7 linked regions of the Homo sapiens genome follow. The protein of the gene in region 6 purifies or fractionates together with the protein of the main gene of each other region. This does not show direct contact. Each region holds a gene or a part of one and is shown on either strand. Other genes may lie near its edges. The genes, in order: TPD52, MAP7D1, DYNC1I2, PLEKHA5, SLTM, MAP4 and WDR62.

Region 1 (3,500 bases), on a different chromosome or scaffold from region 6:
GCTGAAATAAGGTTTATCAAACTCTGTGATTGTCTCCTGAATTGTGATTTTGGCAACATACTTAAAACCAAAGCAGAAAATTTTAGGATTTGTTGAACTTTTAATAGTTTTTAATGTACATGGAGTTTTCTTATATTTGTCCCTTAAAAAATCCCTAATGAAACTCTAGTTGTAAAATTAAATGCCCTACCTCTTGTCTTACATGCATTTATCTATTGAAAATCCCTCTTCCAACCTTCTTATGTGAAGTTATCAAAAAATCTGTTCTTGCTACTGATTGTACTTAACAGAGCTGTAAATTTTTAAAATAAACACTGAGTTTTCCTTATGTTTTCAACCACGAGTATTCTAATGCTCTGTAGTATCAGGCCCAGATTCTGTTGTTTTTCTACTTTCTCTCATACCTAGGGCTTGAATACAATACTCTGCTTACAGTGAGAGTTCAGTGAACATCAAATGATTTAAAATACGTTAAATTGCATCATGCCTTTCAAGAGTTTCCAAGCATTAAGCTCAGCGCAGCACATTTACTGTGTGTGGTATTTCCTACTTTGATAGAGCAGTGTTGCTAACTAGAGCATACATTGTGTAGAAAACCCTCCTGACTACCTTTTATGGAGCTGAATAAATATGTATACTTGAGTGCTCTCATGTTAGTCATAACCTTTAGTTTAGCACTGTTATATAGAAGTGACAGTCACGTAGCCCACTACACATTATACTAGTTTGAATTTAAACAAAGCAAAACAACTTTATAATTTTAAGGGGAAGAGGAATGGTTCCTGAGGCCAAAAAACTAGAGAGGAAAGGCTTCAAAAAAAGAATAACACAATAATATGTCACTATCATTTTAACATTGTAATTGTGCCTTAGAAATAAATAACAGAAATGTGGGGTATCATTTATTTAAAAATAAAGCAAATGTAGAGAATAATGGATAATAATTTTGAGGGTCTACTCCCAAGTCTCTGGGTGTGACCCACCCCATCCAGGCTGTTAATTTATTTGGTCAACAGTTTCGTGATTTCCATATGGTGCTGATGTCTTTGTTAGCTCTTCTTCACTTCCTGCATTTATTTTTATGTGGCAGGCTGCCTAGTCCCTAGGGGAATAGCTGAGTGGTAGGAGGGGTTGTGATCTTTTAGCAAGATTTCAAAACAGAATAATGTATGCATGTAATAAAAACAAATACGCTCACTCACAGTGCAAAACCAAAAAGAACACCCAAATCCCTGGAACTTCTGTGCTACTAAGTCTTTTGTTGTAGGCTAAGATTATTTTCCTTTTGGGGTTAATTATTTCTGCCTTAATTATTGACTGTTGTGAAATCTCTCTTCTGAGACATTCCCAAATTTTATTTAAACTAGTGGGTACCAGCTGTACTGAAACCATAATTTTAGCCATGTATTTTTATTAGAAAAATGTTTCCAGGGGATTAAGGAATTTTAATATTTAGTGGAAGTTTTAAAAAAGAATGTAAAAATGCCTTTTGGAACCTAAGAATAGTTGTCTATTTTAGAAAAATCAGAAATATTGATGGAGAAAAAAGAAAATTACCCATAATCCTGTGCGAGAATGAGAAATCATAGTTAGCATATTAATTTATACCTGTTCATGTATCTATGCTTTAAACAAATCACAATTTTATTATTATTTTTTTTAACAGTGTCTCGCTCTGCCACCCAGGGTGGAGTGCAGTGGCGTGATCTCGGCTCACTGCAACCTCTGCCTCCTGGGTTCAAGCAATTCTCCTGTCTCAGCCTCCCAAGTAGCTGGGACTACAGGCGCATGCCACGACACCCAGCTAATTTTTTTGTATTTTTAGTAGAGATGGGGTTTCATCATGTTGGTCAGGCTGGTCTCGAACTCCTGACCTCAGGTGATCTGCCCTCATTGGCCTCCCAAAGTGCTGGGATTACAGGCGTGAGCCACTGTGCCCGGCCAACAAATCACAAAATTTCTTATTGAATATTGCATTTTATAACTTGCCCTTTTAAAAAAACCCTAAATGTATTTAAAAAATACACTTTAATGGCCGCATGTGGTGGCTCATGCCTGTAATCTCAGCACTTTGGGAGGCCAAGGCGGGCGGATCACCTGAGGTCGGGAGTTGGAGACCCGCCTGACCAACATGGAGAAACCCTGTCTCTACTAAAAATACAAAATTAGCCGGGTGTGGTGGCATATGCCTGTAATCCCAGCTACTAGGGAAGCTGAGGCGGGAGAATCGCTTCAACCTGGGAGGCGGAGGTTGCAGTGAGTCTCTCTCTCTTGCCCAGGCTGGAGTGCAATGGCACCAATTTGGCTCACTGCAACCTCCACCTCCTGGGTTCGAGTGATTCTCCTGCCTCAGCCTCTTGAGTAGCTGTGACTACAGGCGTGTGCCTCCACGCCATAATTTTTCTATTTTTGTAGAGATGGGTTTCATCATGTAGTCCAGGCTGGTCTCGAACTCCTGGCCTCAAGTGATCCTCCCGCCTCAGCCTCCCAAAGTGCTGAGATTACAGGTGTGAGCCACTGCGCCTGGCCTAGAGCAGCTCCATTTTTAATGGCCATTTGTATGTATTTATTTATAGATGTAACATTTTATATACTGTTATAGACAATATTTAACTTGTTCCCTGTTGATGAACATTTACATTTTGCCTTGTAGGGGAGGAAAAATTTCTCCCTACCCTTTTAGGGTTTCTGGCGAGGCCTAGGAATTAAACCAACATGAGATAGATTAACAGGAGAAAAGCATGCAAATTTTATTTAGTGCTTTTTATGTATTACATACCTTTTACCCTCACAAGAGGAATGAAGACTCAAGGAAGTGGCTTGGCCTGATCGATTATATACTAGGTCAAAAAAAGAGTGGCAGTTGTGGAAAAGTAACTAGGAAGGTAAGGTTTAGTTTAGCAAGGTTTCTTTATGCAGATTTCTTTGGGCTTGGACTTCCTGTGATAAGAATGTTTCTTTCTTCCTGGTAGAGGGAGGACATCTTTCATATGGGAGCTTCATCTTCTGCTTTCAGGAAAAAGAGAGGAGGTTTGGGTGCCCTTCTTAACACCTGCTGTTTTTCAAGTGCCTTTAGCCCAAAATAATCAGCATGCTAAAGTGGAATGTTTTGGGATGCTGTGTCCTGAACTCCTTCACCCTGATATTTTGCTGTTAAAACAAAGCTGCAGCAAATGTATGTGTATGCAAGTCATTCCATAAAAATGCCAGTGTGTCTGTAGGAAGAATTCTTAGAAGAATGTGGCTGTTCAATTTTGATAGTGCCAAATTCTGCTCCATAGAAGTGGTGCCAGTTATACTTCCACCAGCATGTGCGAGCGTTTGCTTTCCCTTGCCATGTGGCCAGGATGTTGCCACACTTTTCCATTGTTGCTTGTCTTATAGGGGAAAAATGGTTTCTCAGTATAAGTCTTACTATATATATTTAATATAAAGGTAGTTTACTTCTTTTGATATGTTTACAATCTACATGGCATTTTCTGTGAAATATCTGGCCATAT
Region 2 (3,500 bases), on a different chromosome or scaffold from region 6:
CTCTAACATAAACCAAGCACTTTCCCTATCCCATTTGATCCTGATGACAATCCTAAAAGGAAAGTTCTATGATGGCCCCCATTTCACAGGTGAGAGAATTTACTCAGACAGATTAAGTGGATTGTTCATGCCAGTGTCAGAGGTAGGATTTGAATCCAGAGTTGTCTGATGACAAAACCCTTAAAACCCTTATGTCATGCTGTTTCTGGTAGGCAGTCACATTACCCCGCCCTGAAGCTCCTGCGTGTTCTCTGAAGAAGGAAGTGATTCCGTGGTTCCCCCAGGGAGACTTCCCCCACAAAAGTGAAGGGTGCAGGTGGGGCAAGCAGGCACTGAGCTCAGAGCACAGGAATGTAGGGAAGGCAGGCTCCTGCCCAGGCTGGCTCCCAAGAGGCGGGAAGTGAGGTAGGGGAGAACAGCCCACCTCCAGGGGCAGCGAGAGGGAGTGCCTGGGTGAGGGCTGGTTGTGGCGTGGGGGGTGCACAGACAGCACCTCAGGCAGGAAGCATGGGAGAGGCAGAGGCACGAGGCCGAGAGAAGACAGAACAGAGATCAGCACCTCTAGCAAGAGCCCTCCTGGCCCTCACTGCAGATTCCTAGGTGACAACACTAGAGCAGGCGAAGACAGAGGCAGGCAGAGGGCAGAGACACATGGGAGACAGACGTGCACACAACAGAGACAGACACCAGACAATGTAAACAGGGCCTGCACAATGGCGAGAGACAAGACATATTCTCCTCTCTCTCTCACACACACACACACACACACACACACACACACATACACACACACACATGCAGAGGAAACAGACTTACTGGGATTCAAAACTCTACACATATCTGAGACACACAGATGTACCCACAGAGTACGGGGCCAGGTACCTCCTCTAAGAAACAGACAAAGCCTCAGAGACACACACAGCACACAGAGACACAATGTCCCCGGAATATTTATACAGCGTCATCCAGGTCACTTCTGCTCCTTCTGAGCAAATTATTTCCCTAGGCCCAGAGAAAGTCCGATTAACAGGAGCAACAGCTAATGCTTTTGTCAGGCACAGCTAAACACATTAAACTCATTAGTTCATTTAACCTTTGCCATAATCCTATGAGGTAGATATTATTACCCCATTTTACAAACGAGGAAACAGGTTCAGAGATTAAGACACTTACTTAAGCTCCACAGCTAGTGAGTAGCAAAGCTGGGGTTTGGACCCAATCAGCATGACGGTCTTTACCCTGCCTGCATCCCAGTGGGGACAGCCTCCTGGGTTCCCTCTCCTGGAGAGATCTGGGCTGGGAGAATAGGAGGTCAGTAGAAAGGGCAAACTCTGGGGAATGCCTAATTGTGGGGCCGGGAGAGGAGGGACCCTTAGGGGGCAGCATTATCCCTGGCCTGGACAGAGCTAAGCCGGCTCCGAGAGGGAGTGCCCTAGGAGAGGGCAGCGTGCTCCAGCAGTTGGGCAGTGGGGCACTGGGACCAGGCCACCGGCTTCTGTGGGTGATAAAGCCGGGAACCCGACTGAGACTACAGATCTGAAGGAGCTCTCTGGCCCGGCTGGCGGCCATTGTTCCCAGCCTCCAATCAGGAGCACCCACTTCCTGTTATTTTAGGCGGCAGGAAATGACCCCATCCCGCAGCCTGGGCCCCACCACATCCCTCCCTCAGCCCCAGCAGGGCTGCCCAGGCTGTTGCCCAGATGCTGAAGGCAGAGGCCCAACCTCAGGCCAAGGCCTGGAGATGCCCCCCCAGCTGGACTATTACCACCACCTGGGTCCGGGGCCTTCCTCCTGGTTCAACTGCTTAGGCTCCAACCTGGCAGGCTTCCCAGAGGACCCTGGGCTCTGCTGGGGCTACCTCTGCCAGCCAGGGAAAAGATTATGGGGTCCCCAAGACCAAGATGCCCACACAGGCCAGTCACGGGAGGGAAGCAGGCCAGACCTTGTCACTGGATAGCTTAGCCATGATAATTCAGCTTAGAGGTTTAGGGCACAGACTTCAGAGTCAGACAGATTTGAGTTCAAATCCTGCCTCTGCCAGTTGCTAGCTGTGTGACTTTAGGTAAGTGATTTCATCTCTCTGAGCCTCATCTGTAAAATGGGGATAATGCTAGTCCCTACTCATGAGACTGTGGTGAGGAACAAATGAGACAATGCCCGTGACATGCTGAGCATTGTGCCTGGCACAGAGAAGGCCCTTAATGAATAGGAGATAATAAGTCAGAGATAATTAATGGGAAATAACTTGGTTCACCGGGGAGTCTCTACCTGGCTCACATCATCTCTTACAACTGCTGAGGAGCGCTAGTAAGGGCAGCAGTACCATGTTCCCTACACCCTCCCAGGCTCTCTGCTCCCTTCAGGGCAGAGCTGCAGCTGAGAAGTGGTGGAGGAAACACTGAAGGCTGTGCCCCTGGGTGCCAGGCAGAGATACCACCAGCCAACAAAGCTGCATTATCTGGGTCTGGCTAGTTGGCTCCCTCACTAGCCCCAAGGCCCAGCAGGGACCTAAGGACATGGGTCCCAGCTGCCCTGTGGCCTAACTTCCAGCCTGGGTCAGACCTGAGACCTGACCTGATGGCCCTCAAGTATGGCCATTCTAGTCTGGGCCCAGCTTTCAGTCCCTTCCCTCAGCCCTTCCCCACTATCATGTTAGGAAAGGGGACCTGAGCTGGCCTAGTATCCCTTCCACCTCATTTGCATATGCGTGACTGCACATTAGGGGCTCATTAGAGGCCTCATTATTGGGCCCACCAGCCCAGGAAGGGACTAGGAAGCTGTCATTGGGAGGTGCCAGCCAGCTGGCTGCTGGATGTATGGCCACAGCCCACTGCGCCAGTCTCACCAACGTCTACTCATCCTTTCAGATCCACCTCAAATGCTGCCTCCTCCGTGAAGCCTTCCACAAGCACAGCCCACTGCACACTAACACCATTATACCTGGTTTCCCTGCAGTGAACACATCTGCCTTCCTCGCCGCGTTAAGAGCTCCCCAAGAGTCAAAACTCCGTCTGATTCACTTCTCTGCCGTCCACATAGACTACACCGAGCTGGCATAAGGTGGGGCATCAGCATGGGTGTGCTGGATAGCCGGTTGCACCTGTTTCTTGGGTCTTCTCTCCTGTTCCCACTGTTCCACTTCAGGTATGGGGCCCCTCCGTTCCCTGGATACACCCTAGCTCATGTCTGCCTAGAACTCCCCTCTCCGCTGCCTTCTTGTCCTATACTTACCTCCTACAATTCTAATCAATCACATCTCAGGCTTCTGACGGAATTAAAAATAATGACAAAAAACAAATAGCTAGGCTGGGGGTGGTGGCTCACGCCTGTAATCCCAGCGCTTTGGGAGGCCAAGGTGGGAAGATCACGAGGTCAGGAGTTCGAGACCAGCCCGGCCAATGTGGCAAAACCCTGTCTCTACTAAAAATACAAAAATTAGCCGGGCGCGGTGGCAGGCGCCTGTAATCCCAGCTACTCGGGAGGCTGAGGCAAGAGAATCG
Region 3 (4,122 bases), on a different chromosome or scaffold from region 6:
CATACTTCTTTTTTTTTCCTTTCTTCTTCTTTTCTCTTCTTTTCCTCTCTGATTTGGGCCAGTCGCTGCTTCTTACGTTCCAACTCAGCCTTTAATTCACTTTTGTCTGACATGTTTGTGACCTTAGAAACATATAATCATTATGTTAGTAAAAGCAGCACAGTTGAAAAAACTAGTGTTCCAAGAAGAGAACTGTCCCGAAAGGCCATATAGTTCAATGCTATCTCAAAAAAGCACAAAAACCTTACTTTTAAAATAATGGGGCTGGGCAGTAGCTTACTTTGGGAGGCTAAAGTGGGAGAACTGCTTCAGGCCATGAGTTTGAGACCAGCCTGGGCAACAAAGCAAGACCCCATCTCTACAAAAAAAAAAAAAAAAAAAAAAAAGGCAAGAAAAATAAAAAATTAGGCGGCATGGTGGCATGTGCCTGTAGTCCCAACTACTTGGAAGGATTGCTGGAGCCCAGGAAGTCAAGGCTGCAGTGAGCCGTGATCATGCCACTGCACTCCAGCTTGGGCAACAGAGCGTCTCTAAAAAATAAACTTTTAAAAGATAAAATAAAGGAAGCATATATATTATTACTAAGACTTAAAAAATGTATAAACAAATATATATAATAAATATTACCTAGAGCTGAGCATAGTAGCTAGCCCATAGTAAGCACTTTAATGTTCGCATACACAAACTGAACACAATGTCTCAAAGTTTTTGATGACAATATATTAGGTACCCAAGATAAAGGTCAAAACTGGCTCTTAAAACAGAGGACATGGTTTGGCATTTAGAAGCTCTTAAGCTATATGACACAGATCAAAACTATTACCAATTCTATTGCATTCATAGAAACTTGATAAAAAACAATAGGTCAAACTGAACTTTCCTGTAAGTTCTAAAAGTGCTGTAGTAATACTAAAGCAAAACGCAGGAGTTACCATCATTAGCTATCAAATCATATGACTGTATTTCTCCACAATAACACCTTACGTATACCTCTGATGGCACTTTTAGTACAATTATTTGTGGACATACCTGAAATGTTCCCTATTAGATTGTAATGTACTTGAAATCAGGGACTGTTTTTTAGTTATTTTTGTTGCCTTCACAACATCCAGCAGAATGACCTTAACATTACAATTGACACTGGCTAATGAATAATGGATACGGTAGACACAATTACAATCTGAGCTTCAAAAACCAATTGCATAAACACTACTTCAGCTTGAGTTTTAGGAAGAAATAATGAATTAGGATTTTTTTTTTTTAAGTAGCCTAGCAGCTGAGCATAAGGCAGGAGCCAGGAACTCCTTACCTTCTCCACATGATTGACTTATTGCCTAATGATCAATCTCTTTCAATGTCTCTGTACAAGTGAAGTATTAAATGCTTTAGATCAAGAAAACTAGGAGAATAACCTCTGGAAAACTGTATTTCCAGAGGTTAGGGGAAATCTCTTAAAAAGCACAATTGTTAAATCTGAACAAAGGTAAGTCAGTCAAGAGGAGAAATTCACCTACTAAGAAGTGGATAAAGGAAATTTCAGCTACTAAACTCCATTAAGACTGGCAAGCGAATTGATAATTTTCAAGCATACGAAAAGGATGAAAAGTTGACATAGCAGACCTGAAATATATACACAATATCTTCCAAGATTTGTTTGAACAAACTAAAAGCAAGAGACCGTGTTTCTTATTCCACTCTTTCTACACCTCTAAACAGCTCCATACAAACGGCTGGTGAAGAGAACTTCCATACGTAACTGTATGCTACGCTAGGCACATTATATTTTGTTCAACGTCAACTGTAAAACAGATATACCAACACTAATTGATATTAAAATAAGCGCATTTTTAAAGCCCAACAACAAAGTCTTGACCAGCTGAACTACAGCTGACCAATCCTCTCATCCTCACAGAAGCCAGAGCCTTCCTCCATGACCGACATGTTCACGTTCTTAAAACTCAAGAGAAGAGAGTCTCTAGAGTTTTGTGCTAGAACCTCCGTGTTCGGGGGCTTTCCATCACACATAAGGTGAGGGGAGACACTATCAAGGCAAGTAGAGATGGCCTTAATTTGTAAAATGGGGCAAGGCGAAAACGAATCACTTTCTCCCCTGGGGTCACGGCCAAGAGGGCGCGGTCCACGGCAGGGCGTCCGGAAGAAGCCAGTGGGCGCCGGACAAGCCTCAAGGCTCCCCAGGCCGCCTCTGGAGGGTCGAGAAGGGAAAGGAGTGGACTCCTCTCGCCGGGCCGCAATGAGTCACCGCACCCAGGTCTCCCCGCCTTTCCTCCCCAAAGCTGGGCCGGGCGGGGATGTCAGCAGGAACTGCCAAGCCGCCCTTCGAGTTGCGACGTGGAACACAGGCAGGGAGGCCTTGAGGGAAGAACAGTCAACCCACCTGTCAGGTGACTGGATGGGGAAGAGTCCTCCCGCCTGCAACTTCCCGGTAACGTCCCTCGCCTAAGCCCCCAACACCAACTGTAGCCACCACCAGCTCCGCGGCTTTCCAAAGCACACAAAGAGGGATGGGCGGCGGCTGCTACGGCGAGAGCTTAGGGACAAATAGCCTCACCAGAACGAGGTCGCTCCCAGAAATAAAAGGTGGGGCCCTGCTGCGAGGAATTGTAGCCCCTCCGTGACTTACCTGTCGTAAAGCAGAAGCCGGTAGATAAAACAAAGAACCCAGTCAACCCAGGGGCCTTAAGTATTTCCGCTTTGCCAAAAACTGGAAAACTACGCCTAATATTCTCAGGCCAGGAATCCAACTTCCGCCCTCGCCTTACAAACTGACACGATCGAGAAGAACTACAAACCCCGGCAACAAGGAAAACCTGCGTGCGACGAGCAGTGCGTTCTGGGAATTGTGGTCGCTGGGCGTCGCAAGGTGTGCTGGGACATGTAGTGTGTCCCCTCCTTTAGATTTCCCACTCCAAGGCCTTCTTCCGTCGAGAAGCTTCTGTATAAAGTATTCTCGTCTGTTGATCCGTGCCCACAGTGTAGTATGTGTTATAGTGTAAGATCTTTGACCCAATATTGGCGGAATTTTAAGGTCTATTTTCCAGTGGTGAACCTGTGAATCACGCTGCTGCACATTTGGTGAAGACGTGAAGTAGACTGTTTAGGATGTAAAACATTATATATATATATGTACATACATATGTAAGTTTTAGGGAAAGAATGTCTTATATAGGCTTCATGTGGCATCTTAGGCAAAATCTAAATAAAAATATGTCAACTGACATAGCAAATAATTCTTTAGTATTTTGTTGCAGTGTGGTAGCATTTTGGTTTTCTCTCAAACAATTTTAGGAAATAAAGCATTTTGTATTATTGGACTCTCAAACCAAGCTAGAATGTTTTCCACAGTTAGATTTTTAACATACAAAGAAAACAAAAGTTACTGGAACATGAATTTACCTGCAATGTATACATTGACACACCTTTTTAAAGTTTAAATAATTTAAAGCATTATTTGGCAGGAGTTAAAGCTAACACCAAGGTAATATCTTTTCTATGTTCTAGAAAACTGATTGTTCTAGAAGTTCTAGATATTGCCCAAGTCTAGAATGAACCTTTATGATTCAAATTCCAAGTCCTTGGGCTTGTGGTCTTTTTCTTATCTTTCTCTGCCTTATCTGTGGTCTTTTGTGTAGAAAAAAATATTCTAAAAATAAATTTGAGAAAGAAAATCCTTGGCTTTCCACAGCTTTTCCCAATAACCTAACATTCAAAGAGCTTTATAGCTATGTTATTTTTTTACTTCTTTCCTAATAGTTTTCATGTATTAATTTGAAAAAAAATTATTATTGATTGCCTACCATGTGCCAGCAATGGTGATGGGTGTTGTGGTAACAGCTAAAATGGACCAGGCGCAGTGGCTCACACCTGTAATCCCAGCACTTTGGGAGGCCGAGGCAGGCAGATCACCTGAGCTCAGGACTTAGAGACCAGCCTGGGCAACATGGTGAAACCCCGTCTCTACAAAAAATAGAAAAATTAGCAGGGTGTGTGGCATGCGCCTGTAGTCCTAGCTAGTCACGAGGCTGAGGCAGGAGGATGGCTTGCGCCCAGGAGGCGGAGGTTATAGTGAGCTGAGATTACACAATTGCATTCCAGCCTGGGAGA
Region 4 (3,084 bases), on a different chromosome or scaffold from region 6:
TAATATTTTGATTCAATAAACAGATTATGACTGTACACATATCCTTCCAATAATAAAGGATATTCAGAGTTAAAACTCAAGTATATTTCCAGGTTCCTTAAATTGTTATAGGATTTTATTTTGTTTTCTTCTTATTCCAAGAGCAGTGGCATACTGTAATGAGGTATGATTATTGTCGGATATTTTCTAGTCTCATGGTATGCAACTACCACAAATAACTAAAGGCATGAAAACTTGTATTATTTCATATCTTCCTATTATGCATATGCCATCTTTCTGAACTAGTGGTTTTGGCAGGATTTAGGAAACCTTTACAAATGACACTACGATGTAGGCAGCTCAATAATTATTACGTATTTTAGTGGAGTTATGCAAATGTTTGCTCATTTTGTTGATCTTTTGGATTCAGCTACGTTTGGTACTTTTTTTTTTTTTTTGCAGTTGCAAGATTTAATAGAGTGAAAACAGAGCTCCCCTAAAATGGGAGGGGACCCAAAGGGGGTTGCCGTTGCCAGCGGTACATTTTTTATTCTGTATTGCTATTTATAATCACATTATGTTGGCCGGGCACAGTGGCTCACGGCTGTAATCCCAACACTTTGTGAGGCCGAGGCGGGCGGAACACAAGGTCAGGAGATCGAGACCATTGTGGCCAACATGGTTGAAACTCCGTCTCTACTGAAAATACAAAAATTAGCTGGGCGTGGTGGCATGCACCTGTAGTCTCAGCTACTCTAGAGGCTGAGGCAGGAAAATCACTTGAACCCGGGAGGTGGAGGTTGCAGTGAGCCAAGATTGCGCCACTGCACTCCAGCCTGGGCGACAGAGCGAGACTCAGTCTCAAAAATAATAAGAAGGCCAGGTGCAGTGGCTCACACCTGGAATCCTAGCACTTTGGGAGGCCGAGGCGGGCGGATTGCCTGAGTTCAGGAGTTTGAGACCAGCCTGGGCAACACGGTGAAACCCCGTCTCTACTAAAATACAAAAAATTAGCTGGATGTGGTGATGTGCACCTGTAGTCCCAGCTACTCAGGAGGCTGAGGCAGGAGAATTGTTGGAACCCAGGAGGCAGAGGTTGCAGTGAACTGAGATCGTGCCACTGCACTCCACCCTGGGCAACAGAGCAAGACTCCGTCTCCAAAATGATGATAATAATAATAATAATGAAGAGAAGGAGGAGGAGGAGGAAGGAAGAAGAATTGCATTACATTATGTTTCCTTGTGGGGCCGGGTATAGTGGCTCATGCCTGTAATCCTAGCACTTTGGGAGGCCAAGGCAGTCAGATCAGTTGAGGCCAGGGGTTCGAGACCAGCCTGGCCAACATGGTGAAACCCCGTCTCTACTAAAAATACAAAAATTAGCCAGGCATGGTGATATGTGCCTGTAATCCCAGCTAGTTGGGAGACTGAGGCAGGAGAATCGCTTGAACCCAGGACGCAGAGGTTGCAGAGAGCCGGGATCATACCACTGCACCCCAGCCTAGGCGATAGTGATACCCTGTCTCAAAAAAAAAAAATTGCATTATGTTTCTTTGCTTTGTGAATTAAGCTATGGAAATGAAGAAAAATATCCTTTGATGTATTGTATTTTAGGATTTTCATGGCCATGCTTGTCAGTTCTGTTGTTACAGAATGTCACCCTTAGTTACTTTGGGAAATGGTAATTAATTAACGTTGCAGGTGTCAAAGTAATTTCCTCTCTCTTATTTTTCAGCTATACTGACTTCTGTTGAAACCATTCAAAGCTAAAGACATGGACCTTCAGCAGTGTAAGAAGATATTGTACAGTATATTTTAAATCTATGAAATTCATAGTTCTGATGCTTTTGGTCACAGAGCATCATTTTATCACTTCTGGAAAATGTTTATTCCAAAACAGCTTTAATGGCCCATATGTACACTTCGTAATCTCAAGGTTATTATTCTGACACCAGCTTGCTGCTATGATTTCAGAGCACATAAGTAAAGGTGCTTTTTAATGTGCAGTCTATTTCCAGAGCTTACTTAGTTGCTGATTTCCAGATTTCGATGTTTCTTAAGTCTAGGTGAATTTATATATATATTTTTTTGCTTTTCATTTTCTAAAGTTAGTTATTATTTCCATTGAAGCTTGTTTTCTTTTTTTTCTTCCCATTTTAGCTACTGCAGTGCTTTTGTTTCACACTTGATTTGTAAAAATTTTATATATATGTATTTAAAATGTGCCATTTTATTGCTAAGTGAAGTATGTCCTGTTTTCTGCTATAATTCTTTCTCGGTCAGATTGCAATGTCAGCAGTTACTGCCACACTCCTGTCAGCTTAAACACAAATGTTACTGCTTATCTTTTCTTAAAAAAAAAAAAAACAAAGTGTAGGTATTTTGAAGTACTGGGCTTATATTTCATTGGAATACATGTGTACAGCAATAAGCAGGTTTCCAAATCCGGTACTTAGTTTGTGTACAAATGTAATTATGTTCATTGTGTATATATTATACAATGAGCACATGTAATGTATTAAAGGCTACTTACTATTGTTTAAATGCAAATGTTCATATCTCATTTCTTTTTTTATCATGTTAAATAAATGTTGATGTTCTTAAATCAGTGTTAGAATTTTTGTTCTTTCCATCCAAAATTGAAAGTCTTAAGACTCAAGAGACCTCTAGAAGAAAAGGTACTCTGTTAATTTTATAATCCTAGACAACATCTTAAAAGATCCTTGTCGGTCCAACCCTCCCATGTCAAAGTTGAGGACCTTGAGGCTCAAAGAGATCAATTGAGTTGGCCACAATTTAATGACAGAATTTTGACCAGACTATAGTTTTTTCTGACTTTTTCTCTAAGTACATTACATTAGCTCATTACCACTAGAGGAGTTTAGTTTTGTGAAGTCTTTTACCACGTTTCTATTTGCTTCCATGTTTCAGAAAGTAACTTCAAGCATCAGTAGTCCTGCTCTGTTTAGGGATTGGACTTTGAGAGAGGTGTGTAAGGCAGCTGTTTGTCTGACATGGGTAGCTAGAAACCGTTTCATCGTAAGTAGGACCCTCAGAGATCATTTTCTCTTACAATACATTCTTTGCAGATGTTCACGCTCTTCA
Region 5 (3,500 bases), on a different chromosome or scaffold from region 6:
TAACACATCAGGAGTACAAACTAGCAAAGACTTAATTGTTGAATTACATAAAGTCAAATAGTGTGAGAGGAATTTAACAGGAGAGAAAATAGTTGAAAAACTGCCTGTCTTTTCCATTAAATGGAAAAGACATTTAGCATTCAGGAGAAATGATACCATTAAATGGAAAAGACAAATAAAATACCTGAAACCACTTTATAATAAAATTCTAACCAGTTCACACAACCTCTTCAGTTATCCTTAACTTTGGAAACGTTAGAGTGGTAAGTCAGAAGCACAGTTCATTCATTCCACCTATTTCTCTACACAATCAACTCAGTTTCATAGAATTTATGTTAAGAAGATTAAATGGGCATACTTATGTTTTTAAATCTATATGAAGTATGAATCCAAACACACAATAGAATCTATCTTTCAATCTCAAGTTTATGACTTCCATTTCTATACTACCTGCACTACCTTTTTAAGAATGTTCAAAATCTGTTTAATTATTATTGAAGCCTACTATGACAATGTATTTCCAGTCATAATGAAAAACATTTGGCATCAGAAAGGTAGACAGGGAAAGAAACACAGACTGTTCCCACTTGCTAGTGCACTGGGTCTACCCCAGTACTGTAATCCTTCCCATCCCTGTTGATCATGACTTTTATTCCAGTGATGGGAGCCTGTACTTTCTAATTCTCTAGTCTTAGCCTAAAGGGAATAAAACAGCAAGGTTAACTGTTAAGGAATAAAATGAGTAACTACCTATGATCTACATCACGTGGGCGTTTCAAGGAATTCCTTTTTTCTTGTTCATAACGAAGCTGCTGTTGTTGCCTTCTGAGTTCCTCTCTTTCTCGAGCAATCCGTTCAGCTTCCTTACGACGTTCCTTCAGACAACACAGAATGAAGAACCAACCAAGGCAAAATGAAAACATAAGATAAGTATACATGCAACCTTGTTTTAATCCTGTTGCTAAGAAACCATCATAAGCAAAGACCAGGCAAAACACAAACCTATGACACCTAAATTTGATTTCAATAATCTAGGCTGTAGCTATTGTTCTGCAACATTAAAAATAACAAGGACTGGGTGGTAAAAGTTGGCAAGTATTTGGGAAGGTCAAGTTTAGTTTAATCATTCGACTAAAACAAAAGCACCTAAAGGGAATTAGAAATAGCATTCTTAATATGCATGGAGACTAAGTGCCTTAAAACCCTGAGGTGCAATTCTGCAAAGAGAGGCATTATTTCCTTCCAGCCTTGGGAAATCATTCCCACTATAATATGTAAGGAAATCGTTATTATTTTCTAAGACTGGGATAGTGACAGAGCCTGGATTACAACTACTCTGGACTCATAGTCCTATGCTCAGACTATTAGGCTGCCATGATATTGCAGAGCTAGAATTATTACCAGTTATCTAGAACAAAGTCACTACTAATTCTATTTTTAACTAGTACCTAATTCACTGTTATCTTTCAGGGACACTTAAAAGCTCCTTAGCTAAACTCATTCTATAGACGCTTTACAACAAGTAAAGCAAGTTTTAGGGCTAAAATCACAGAGTCTGAAAAAGGTGAGTTATTTAAGATGAAAAGATTTTCTGACTGCACCTGTTCAATACGAATGCGTTCCCTTTCCAAGCGTTCGCGTTCCATTCTCTCTCTCTCTAGTTTTTGCCTTTCAATTTCTAGGCGCTCTCTCTCTCTCTGTAAGCGTTCCCGTTCTTCCCGTTCACGAATTATTCTAATGCGTTCTCGCTCTCGACGCTCTCTCTCTGCAATCTCTCTTCGTCTACCAAAAATCAGTATTTAGAAATACTTAAATTATGCTAGCACTGTGTGAAAGAGAATAGCTTTGAATTTGAATTTTTCCTTGAGGTTGGCAATTTTAAATTTCAACTCAATCTAAGTAGTTTTAATGTAATTGGAAAGAGAATTCAAAGTAAAACTTTAAACAGATCCCAATATTTTCACTTATCTATAAATAAGACTGTCAACTGAGCAGCTAAATTTTATAATATAGAGTAGTTGCCTCTTAGATGATTCCTGTTTAAATAAAAATTACTATAATAGTCCATTAATTAATTGACATTTTAGAAGGATGTAATCTGCATATGTAAATTTACAAAACTACAACTTCCAACACTTGTTTTTGATGGAAAAAGCTCTAATCCCTATTATATATTCTATTGTATCTCCTTAAACAAGTACATACTTTGATGATTTGGGATCATAACAATGAACATCAATAATAGCAAATACTACATATAACAAAATGGTGTCCTTAAGGGCTATTTTGGAATGTTTACTATCCTATAATAGATGGCTCCAGGTAACATGCTTTTCTGAGTCAGAGGTAGTTCAATTGTTCACTGAACTGAATTGTTATTGTATTAGACTTTTAATGTTATTTTCTTACTGTAAGGTAGTCAGCATCCTTTTCTGTCATCAGCATGTCTTTCTCTAGTAACCCAGTGGTTCTCAATGGGTCAGTACTATTTCTACAGAAATCAATGGGATATTTTTAATTATCACAATGACCATGGGGCAGATACTAGTGTTTAGTGTATGAGGATGAAGGTATCTAAGTATCTTATTGATGCATGGAATAGTGAGGATAGTCGTACACAACAAGAACCATCCAACACCTCTCATACCTTTCAGATGCCACAACGGACATGCACACCATTAAAAACAACCAAACACCTTAAGCAAAAATAATATGTCAGTCTAGAACTCAACCCCATTTTTAATAAATACTGTTTGCTTTGATATTATTTCTATAATCTAGAATTTCCAATAATGCAACTCCATATAAATAGAAGGAAAATTATACTTTCTTGCGACTTTTACCAAGAGTTGCTCACCATTTCAGAAATCATGTCATAATGTCAACACTACTTCTGGTATTTACTAACCAATACAACATATTAAATGACATACAACGTCAGTCTGTATTTGAAGCTGTCCCATTCTCAGTGAGTCTAAATAGGGATGCAAACATCTGACTACTTCATTAAGTCATGCCTAAACCTTCATATCTGGAATACATATTTTTATTATAAATTACTTTTATTTCTCCTTTATATTATAGTTAAGCCATTACATTTTTTTCTTTTTTTGAAATTGTTAGTATAGCTTAAGTATGTTATACATCAATTTCATTTCAGGAGAGTAAAGGCATTGCAACTTTTTTTAATATAAAAGGGAATTTGGTCACATAGGGTTTGAGAATCACTGGTCTAGTTGCTCCTCAATCCCACTCTCCTCTCAATCTGTTGTCAACTAAATACACAGGAAGCTAGGCACATTTGGACTTCATCTTAAAAAAGAGAAAATGGGTTCTATGTGCTACAAGGATTACTTCCTTTTAGTAAAGTTGTGTGTCAATTATTGTACAGAATAATCTAAGTTGCTAAAAGTATCTCTGGTAGTTCCTAACGCTGTCGTCAATGAATGGATGAAATCCCATGATAAGTAACCCCTGGACAAGACAGCTTAACATTTGAA
Region 6 (3,500 bases):
AAGCAACAAACTGGTCAAAAAATGTATCTGTATCATTGAGAGATCATTTCCCATTACTAGAAACACAAATAAATCGGTGCCTACCAATGCTGGTTTGAGGCCACCATTTCCTCATAAGGAGGTGGACTGATTTCATTTAACCTAAAAGCAGTTTGGATATTTAGTCCCACCAGCACAAGCTACATATAAATTGAAAAAAATCTCATGCACATAGCTAGACATGAAATATTTTCTTTCCTCCTGTGAATCCTTATACCAAGTAATGATTAAAATTTAGCTGTAAACTTGATACATAGGAGGCACAATTTTAAAAAAATTAAGAAATGGATGATGATAGGTCTTTTGTTAGACAATTCATTGAAAATTCAACTTCCCCTAAAATTCAACGTTCAGTGCTGGGTAAAAAAGGCATGCAACCAAGTTACCAGCCTCCTCAAGCAGGACACAAGGAACACATTGGCTGCAGAAAACACACCGTAGCAGTTATAGGTTTCATGCCAACAAACCAATGATTAACAAGGATGATTAGAGTCTGGATGGAGCCAAGACACAAGCTCTTTGCCTTTCTGATGCTGACTCAAAAGCCACAAGCACACACATTTCCCCATGGCAGGTTCATACCAGCGGACTTCAGTTGCTTATGTCTCTCTTGTTCCTGGATTGTAGACTTTGGCAAAAGTGGAGTAAGTCCTCGGGACTTGGTGGGTCTCATGTAGCCTTTCATTGGTTCTGCCATTCTGCTTTTATCTTCCTTTTTCCCTTCTCCTGGTGTCTTTGATTCAGATTTTTCTGTCATTTTCTGAGGTGTCTCCAAAATCTTATCTTTGGGTTCTGGGAGTCGAACACCCTTGGAAGCAGTCATTATTACTAACGTATCCGCCACCTCTGAAGGAGGAGCTTCGACTTTGCTATGTAAGAAATCTGACTGGATTTCTGGTGTTGGCAAGGAAACGCTTTCCAATTCCGTGATTTTACAAGCCAGACTAATTTCTTTCAATTTATCATTTTCACTTTTTGGAGACAAAAGAGTCAGATCTACCTTCTTATTCAAACTATCTGAACCTTTGGAATTTCTATCTTGAGCATTTTGGTCCTCACAAAAACTGAGCTTTTGTGCTTTGTCTTCCAGTAAGTCAGGAATCTGAACTGCAACAGACCCTTCTTTAGTCTCTTTCTCTTCATTCACTGGATGTGCTGGGAAATTACCTCTATCTGCATATCCTTCTAGGGCTCTGGCCTCTCCTGGTAGGCTCTGGTCTTCTACTGGCACTCCAGGAAGGAGGTGACCTTTTGCTAGCTCTGTGACTTTCTCTACTGAATGCTTAGACGCACCACTGTGCACTGACTCAGATTCTCCTATCACATGCCCTTCATCGATCCCTGCTTCATTTTTCATGGAATCAGCAAGCTCAGCTTTATTCTTAAGAGAGTGATCTCCATGAATGTTAACTGTTTCTATGGCTGTTGTAATAGGTAGAGCAACTCCTCCTGTGCTTGTAGAGGGCACAACAGCAGAGGGACCCTTGGGTCTTTCTTGACCTGGGACTCCATCTTTGGTGTAGTTATCTACCATTAATGATTTGGAAATCTGGGCTGGGGCTATCTCTTGCCCATTTTTTGCCAAGGTATCTGGAAAGGAATCACCTTCCTTTACTACTTGAGGAGTAGGAGTGGGCAGTTTTTCACAGGCTGCTGATTCCAGAACCTCTAGAGGAGATGATTTATTTATCAGCTCTGATGGTGTTCTGGGACAGGTAAATGTAATATTTCTATTTTCGTCCATATAGGCCATTCCTTCAATTCCCTGGTCCCCTGTGGTTTCCATGGGAACATGTATTTTTGTTGCATCTATCTTATTCTCCAGAATGTGCTTCTCAGGAGAACTATTTTTAACCTTTTTACTTTTTCCATCATTACTCCTTTTACTTGGTTTGTCAGCCACTGCAGTGTATCTATTGGCTGCATCTGTCTTATTCTCCTCAGATACTACTGAAGGAACAAATCCTGCCCCCTGGATTTGCTCTTGGCAGCTCACATCTGTCACCTTGGCAGGTGGTTCAGTAACAGTAGAAGCCTTGACTGTGCTTATCTTGTTTTCCCCAAGAGTCCCAAGCTCAACAAAATTAACCTGAAAATTTCCACCCTTCCTGTCAACTGCTTCCACTGTGGGTGTATCTGGTGTATGTGAGAACGAAGAATCATGCATTTTGGGGAAAGTAAATCCTATTTCCTTGCTTTTATGGGGAATACTACCAGTATCTCCATCCTTCCCTTCAAAAGGTGGGTTAAGGATTTCTTCCTTCCTCTCCATTCTAGCAGGCTGTGTGGAATAATTATTTTTAAACTTTTTGCTTTTGCCTTCATTGCCTCTCTTTTTAGGCTTTTCAGAAATCCAGGGAGCTGCCTCATGATCCTTCCATGGACACCTTCCTTCCTTGCTCTGGTTATTGACACCCATATCTTTGACTACATCTCCTGTTTCTGTGCTAACACCAGAAGTCTGAGTCATGCCTGATCCACTTTCCAAAGGAATCAATGCCTGCATGGTGCCTGCCACCTTAGGCTGAGTCATCTCTTTAGGCTCCCCCATCACCACTGCCTCCGTGAGATCAGCCTTAGTGCCTGGTTGCTTTGAAGAATTCAGCCCCAGCTCCTCACTCTTATCCTGAGTAGTCATTCCTTCAGTTTTAGAGACTGGCTCACTCGGTATGAGAACAGCCCTTCCGTCCTTCTGGCTGTCCAGAAGAAATGGCAGCTCAGATTTTGCTTTTACCTTCCCAGAATCTGTTCTCATTTTCCCAGAACTTCCCCTTCCCTTCCTGCTTTTGCCATCACCTGCCATTCTCTTAAATGGTTCATTCTCTACCCCAGGGACCTGTACCAACACTTGGCCCTGCAGCTGCTCAGAAGTAAAGATGCTGATCTCTTGTCTTTCGTTGGGAAAAGCTTCCTTTTTTAGTTCTTTATCCTCTTCAGCTCCTTCAGGAAACTCCTTCAGTTTGACATTCTGCAGTTTAGTCATTTTACTTTCATTATTCCCTTCTTTTAGATTACATTCTAATGGATTACTTGCTATCAAAGTGGGTACCAAATTTGGTATTTCTTTTGCTGCTGTGGGTTTTGAAACTACACCCATAACCTCTTGGTCCAAGAAAGGAGAGCAACCCTCTTTAAGTCTGATATCCAAAGGGGTTTCTACATTGTATGCAGAAACTTCTGCTAGGGGTCCTTTCAGATTGAGAGGGCCTACTGACTGGCTTTTATCTACAGGAGTCTTCAGGTGGGGTGCAGGCTGTGGTTTGTATTCATGTTGCTTCAGCAATTTCTTGTCTTGGTTTTGTAGTACTGACTTGTTACTTTTGCTCTCTTCCTCTACTCTCAGCTTAGACTGAGAACTTATTGCAGTTTTGGGGGCTTCTTCAGAAGGATATAAAGGAATTCTGAGACTCTCTGAGACAAAGTTCTCAGCTACCAGTCTGGCTGCACTGGAGTTAACTAAA
Region 7 (2,856 bases), on a different chromosome or scaffold from region 6:
GCTGCGGGGAAGAGCTCTAGGGGAAGATCCCGAGGGGACCCTCATAACCCTTCCCGCCGAGCAGCCCTGGCCCTAGGCCAGCCCACAGCCCAGCGGGGCACTCCCCAGAAACCCTTATGTACAGACACAGGGTACGAGCAGGGGCAGTGGGTGAGGAGGCATCGTGAGGCTCAGGTCAAGAGTGAAGCAGTGGGCCGGGCACGGTGGCTCACGCCTGTAATCCCAGCACTTTGGGAGGCCAAGGCGGGCAGATCATCTGAGGCAGGAGTTTGAGACCAGTCTGGCCAACATGGTGAAACCTCATCTCTACTAAAAATACAAAAAATTAGCAGGGCGTGGTTGTGGATGCCTATAATCCCAGCTACTCAGGAGGCTGAGGCAGGAGAATTGCTTGAACCAGGGAGTCGGAGGTTGCAGTGAGCCAAGATTGGGCCACCGCACTCCAGCCTGGCAACAGAGCGAGACTCCGTCTCAAAAAAAACGAAGCAGTTGCTCTCCACTCACCCTCCTGGCCCTGCTGGGGAGCCAACTCCAGGGACGCCAATGCTGTGCCCAGGCTGCACAGACGGCCTCGGCAGGTGTGGGTGAGGCAGGGCCCTACCTCTGCAGGGGGACTCAGTCAGTGTCTCAAAGTGGTGGCGGAGGAACTTCTCCTGCTCCGGAGTCTGGGGTAGGGAGCTGCTGGGGACGCTGGGTCCCTCGGGCAGGGACAGCTCATCTTCTGTGGGACCTGCGCATCCTGACAGGGAAGGAGGGGAGGGACAAGAGGAGCCAACACCATGAGTCACAGCAGACGCCACCTGAAATGGAGAAAGCGGGCCCCACCCATCCCTGCCCTGTTGCCCGCAGGCTGAGAAGCAGGGATCCCCGTCTTCCAGGCTCAGTGGGCTCCAAGTGCAGGGCCTGTGCTTAGACATTGTGACTGGCCCTAAGCCAGGCCCGAGCAGCGAGTCCCCTGCGTGTCTGGCCCCTGCTTACCTGGGAAATGGGGCAGCGACGTGGCAAACCGAGGGGCAGGGTCAGGAGGCGGAGCTGGGGAGTGGATGGCTGCGAAGCTGCACTCCAGGTCGGCCTCTGACTCCCCCGAGTCTGAAGGACAGAGTCGGGGTCAGGAGCCCACAGCCTGACCATTCTGGTGAGCCAGGGCCAGGGCTACCCTTCCCTGGGCTCAGTTTCCCCATCTGGAGGAGGGATGGTAAGAGCAGCTGCCCCCCATTTTATGAATAAGGGAAGTTCCACATCAAGGAGGTGGCAGAGCTGGGCTCTCAGCTGTAGGCAGCTGGGCCCAGAATCCTCAGGCAGCAGCAGGGACCACATGTGTCTTCCTCGACAGACTCTGAGCTTCAGTACTGGGTCAAAGTCACCATCGGTGCCCAGAAAGGGGCTTGGCTGAACGCACAGACTGTCACAGGGTCCCTGCCTGCCCTGCACTCACCCTCAGGCGGGCTCTGGTCCTTTGGGCTGTCGGAGGACACCCTGAGGTAGGAGTCGCCCTGCTGGTCTCCAGGCCCGGCCTCCACCTCCTTCCTGCAATACTGGCTGCAGTGCCAGTGGGGGCAGAGAGGGAACAAGGACTTCAGCTGGAGACTCAACAGCTAGCCCCACCCGGAGCCCCTAGGCACCTGTACCCGCTGCTCCTGCAGGAGCACTGCGACAGCCTCCCCGCCTCCTCCAAATGCCCCCTCCTTCCCCCAGGTCAGGCCCTCCTGTACCCCACCTGGAACCAGGGAACTAAGGCTGGGCTCCTGCCCCATCCAGGCCTCAACTGTCCCCACTCCCACAAGCCCACTGGGAAGGCAGAGAGCACTTCTTCCAGGATGCAGCTATCAGCTGGGGGTTCCTCCAACTAAGGCTCCCTTGGTGGAAAGGACACCCACCTGTCTGTCCCTGTGACTGTCACTTCTGCCTCCAGAGAGTAGAGGATGAGCTCACTGGCCTCAGATGATTCCTTCTGCTGGGGCAGGAAGGAGGGGTGCCCGCGGCCAGCTTCCTGGGGACTCTCTGACTATGGGGAAGACAGCACAGCCATTCTGAGGCAGGCATGGCTGGGGCCACCAACAGTGCGCCAGGAACCATGCCAGCAGCCCCACTGCTGGAGGCTGTGAACCAGGGCCTGTGCCATGCCCTCCACTCGCAACCAGCTTGTCCTGGTCTGCCCCTGCATTATCAGTCCCTTTACAGATGAGGAAGAGGTGTGGCACCAAAAATAGGAGGCCCAACCCTCTACGTGTCTATTTATATCAAGTTCAAGAATAGGAAACCCAGTCCTTGGTGAGAGGTCAGAACACTGGTTATCCTGGTGCGGGGACCTGACTGGGAAGGGCAGAAGGGGGTTTCTATGAGGTAGAAAACACTCCAGATTTTGCCCAGGGTAGTGGACACACGTGAATTACACAGATAGTTCATCAAGCTGTATACCTAAAATCTGTGCATGTTACTGGATGTATATTATACCACAATGAAGATGACAAATTATAGGATAGGATAAAAATGAATTTTGTTTGGAAAATAGTAGAGAAAGAGCTAAAGTTGCACGGGCACCTCTAAGAGCCCAGGCCCTATACTTAAGCATGGATTCCTGTAAAAGCCCTCTGGGGCAGAAGAGATTGTTATTACCATTTAAAAACAAAACAAACAAAAAAATTTAAAAAATATTTTTGTAGAGGTGGGATCTTGCTACGTTGCCTAGGCTGGCCTTGAACTCCTCAAGTGATCGTTAAGTAATCCTCCTGCCTTGGCCTCCCCAAATGCTGGGATTACAGGTGTTAGCCACTGCCCCTGACCCCATTATGACTACTTTTTAGAAGACTGAAGCCCAAAGAGGTAAGCCTCTTACTCCAGGTCACACAACAGGAA

Evidence for each region.
Region 1: the proteins of MAP4 (region 6) and TPD52 fractionate together in Homo sapiens (co-fractionation; one large-scale study listed by BioGRID). This does not show direct contact.
Region 2: the proteins of MAP4 (region 6) and MAP7D1 purify together in Homo sapiens (affinity purification with mass spectrometry; one large-scale study listed by BioGRID and IntAct). This does not show direct contact.
Region 3: the proteins of MAP4 (region 6) and DYNC1I2 fractionate together in Homo sapiens (co-fractionation; one large-scale study listed by BioGRID). This does not show direct contact.
Region 4: the proteins of MAP4 (region 6) and PLEKHA5 purify together in Homo sapiens (affinity purification with mass spectrometry; one large-scale study listed by BioGRID and IntAct). This does not show direct contact.
Region 5: the proteins of MAP4 (region 6) and SLTM purify together in Homo sapiens (affinity purification with mass spectrometry; one large-scale study listed by BioGRID and IntAct). This does not show direct contact.
Region 7: the proteins of MAP4 (region 6) and WDR62 purify together in Homo sapiens (affinity purification with mass spectrometry; one large-scale study listed by BioGRID and IntAct). This does not show direct contact.

Annotation. Positions count from the first base shown.
Region 1 is NC_000008.11:80,165,065-80,168,564, reverse strand, and holds part of TPD52 (tumor protein D52), read left to right. Parts: intron 1-3,500.
Region 2 is NC_000001.11:36,159,160-36,162,659, reverse strand, and holds part of MAP7D1 (MAP7 domain-containing protein 1), read right to left. Parts: intron 1-3,500. UniProt on the Homo sapiens protein: Microtubule-stabilizing protein involved in the control of cell motility and neurite outgrowth. Facilitate microtubule stabilization through the maintenance of acetylated stable microtubules.
Region 3 is NC_000002.12:171,686,147-171,690,268, reverse strand, and holds the start of DYNC1I2 (cytoplasmic dynein 1 intermediate chain 2), read right to left. Parts: upstream 2,801-4,122; 5' UTR 2,642-2,800; intron 2,515-2,641; exon of another isoform or gene 2,396-2,514; intron 123-2,395; 5' UTR 114-122; coding exon 6-113; intron 1-5. UniProt on the Homo sapiens protein: Acts as one of several non-catalytic accessory components of the cytoplasmic dynein 1 complex that are thought to be involved in linking dynein to cargos and to adapter proteins that regulate dynein function.
Region 4 is NC_000012.12:19,373,817-19,376,900, forward strand, and holds the end of PLEKHA5 (pleckstrin homology domain-containing family A member 5), read left to right. Parts: intron 1-1,714; coding exon of another isoform or gene 1,715-1,749; 3' UTR 1,750-2,584; downstream 2,585-3,084.
Region 5 is NC_000015.10:58,888,680-58,892,179, forward strand, and holds part of SLTM (SAFB-like transcription modulator), read right to left. Parts: intron 1,783-3,500; coding exon 1,602-1,782; intron 876-1,601; coding exon 751-875; intron 1-750. UniProt on the Homo sapiens protein: When overexpressed, acts as a general inhibitor of transcription that eventually leads to apoptosis.
Region 6 is NC_000003.12:47,908,417-47,911,916, forward strand, and holds part of MAP4 (microtubule-associated protein 4), read right to left. Parts: coding exon 622-3,500; intron 1-621. UniProt on the Homo sapiens protein: Non-neuronal microtubule-associated protein. Promotes microtubule assembly.
Region 7 is NC_000019.10:36,099,897-36,102,752, reverse strand, and holds part of WDR62 (WD repeat-containing protein 62), read right to left. Parts: intron 2,006-2,856; coding exon 1,878-2,005; intron 1,540-1,877; coding exon 1,436-1,539; intron 1,090-1,435; coding exon 979-1,089; intron 740-978; coding exon 602-739; intron 17-601; coding exon 1-16. UniProt on the Homo sapiens protein: Required for cerebral cortical development. Plays a role in neuronal proliferation and migration.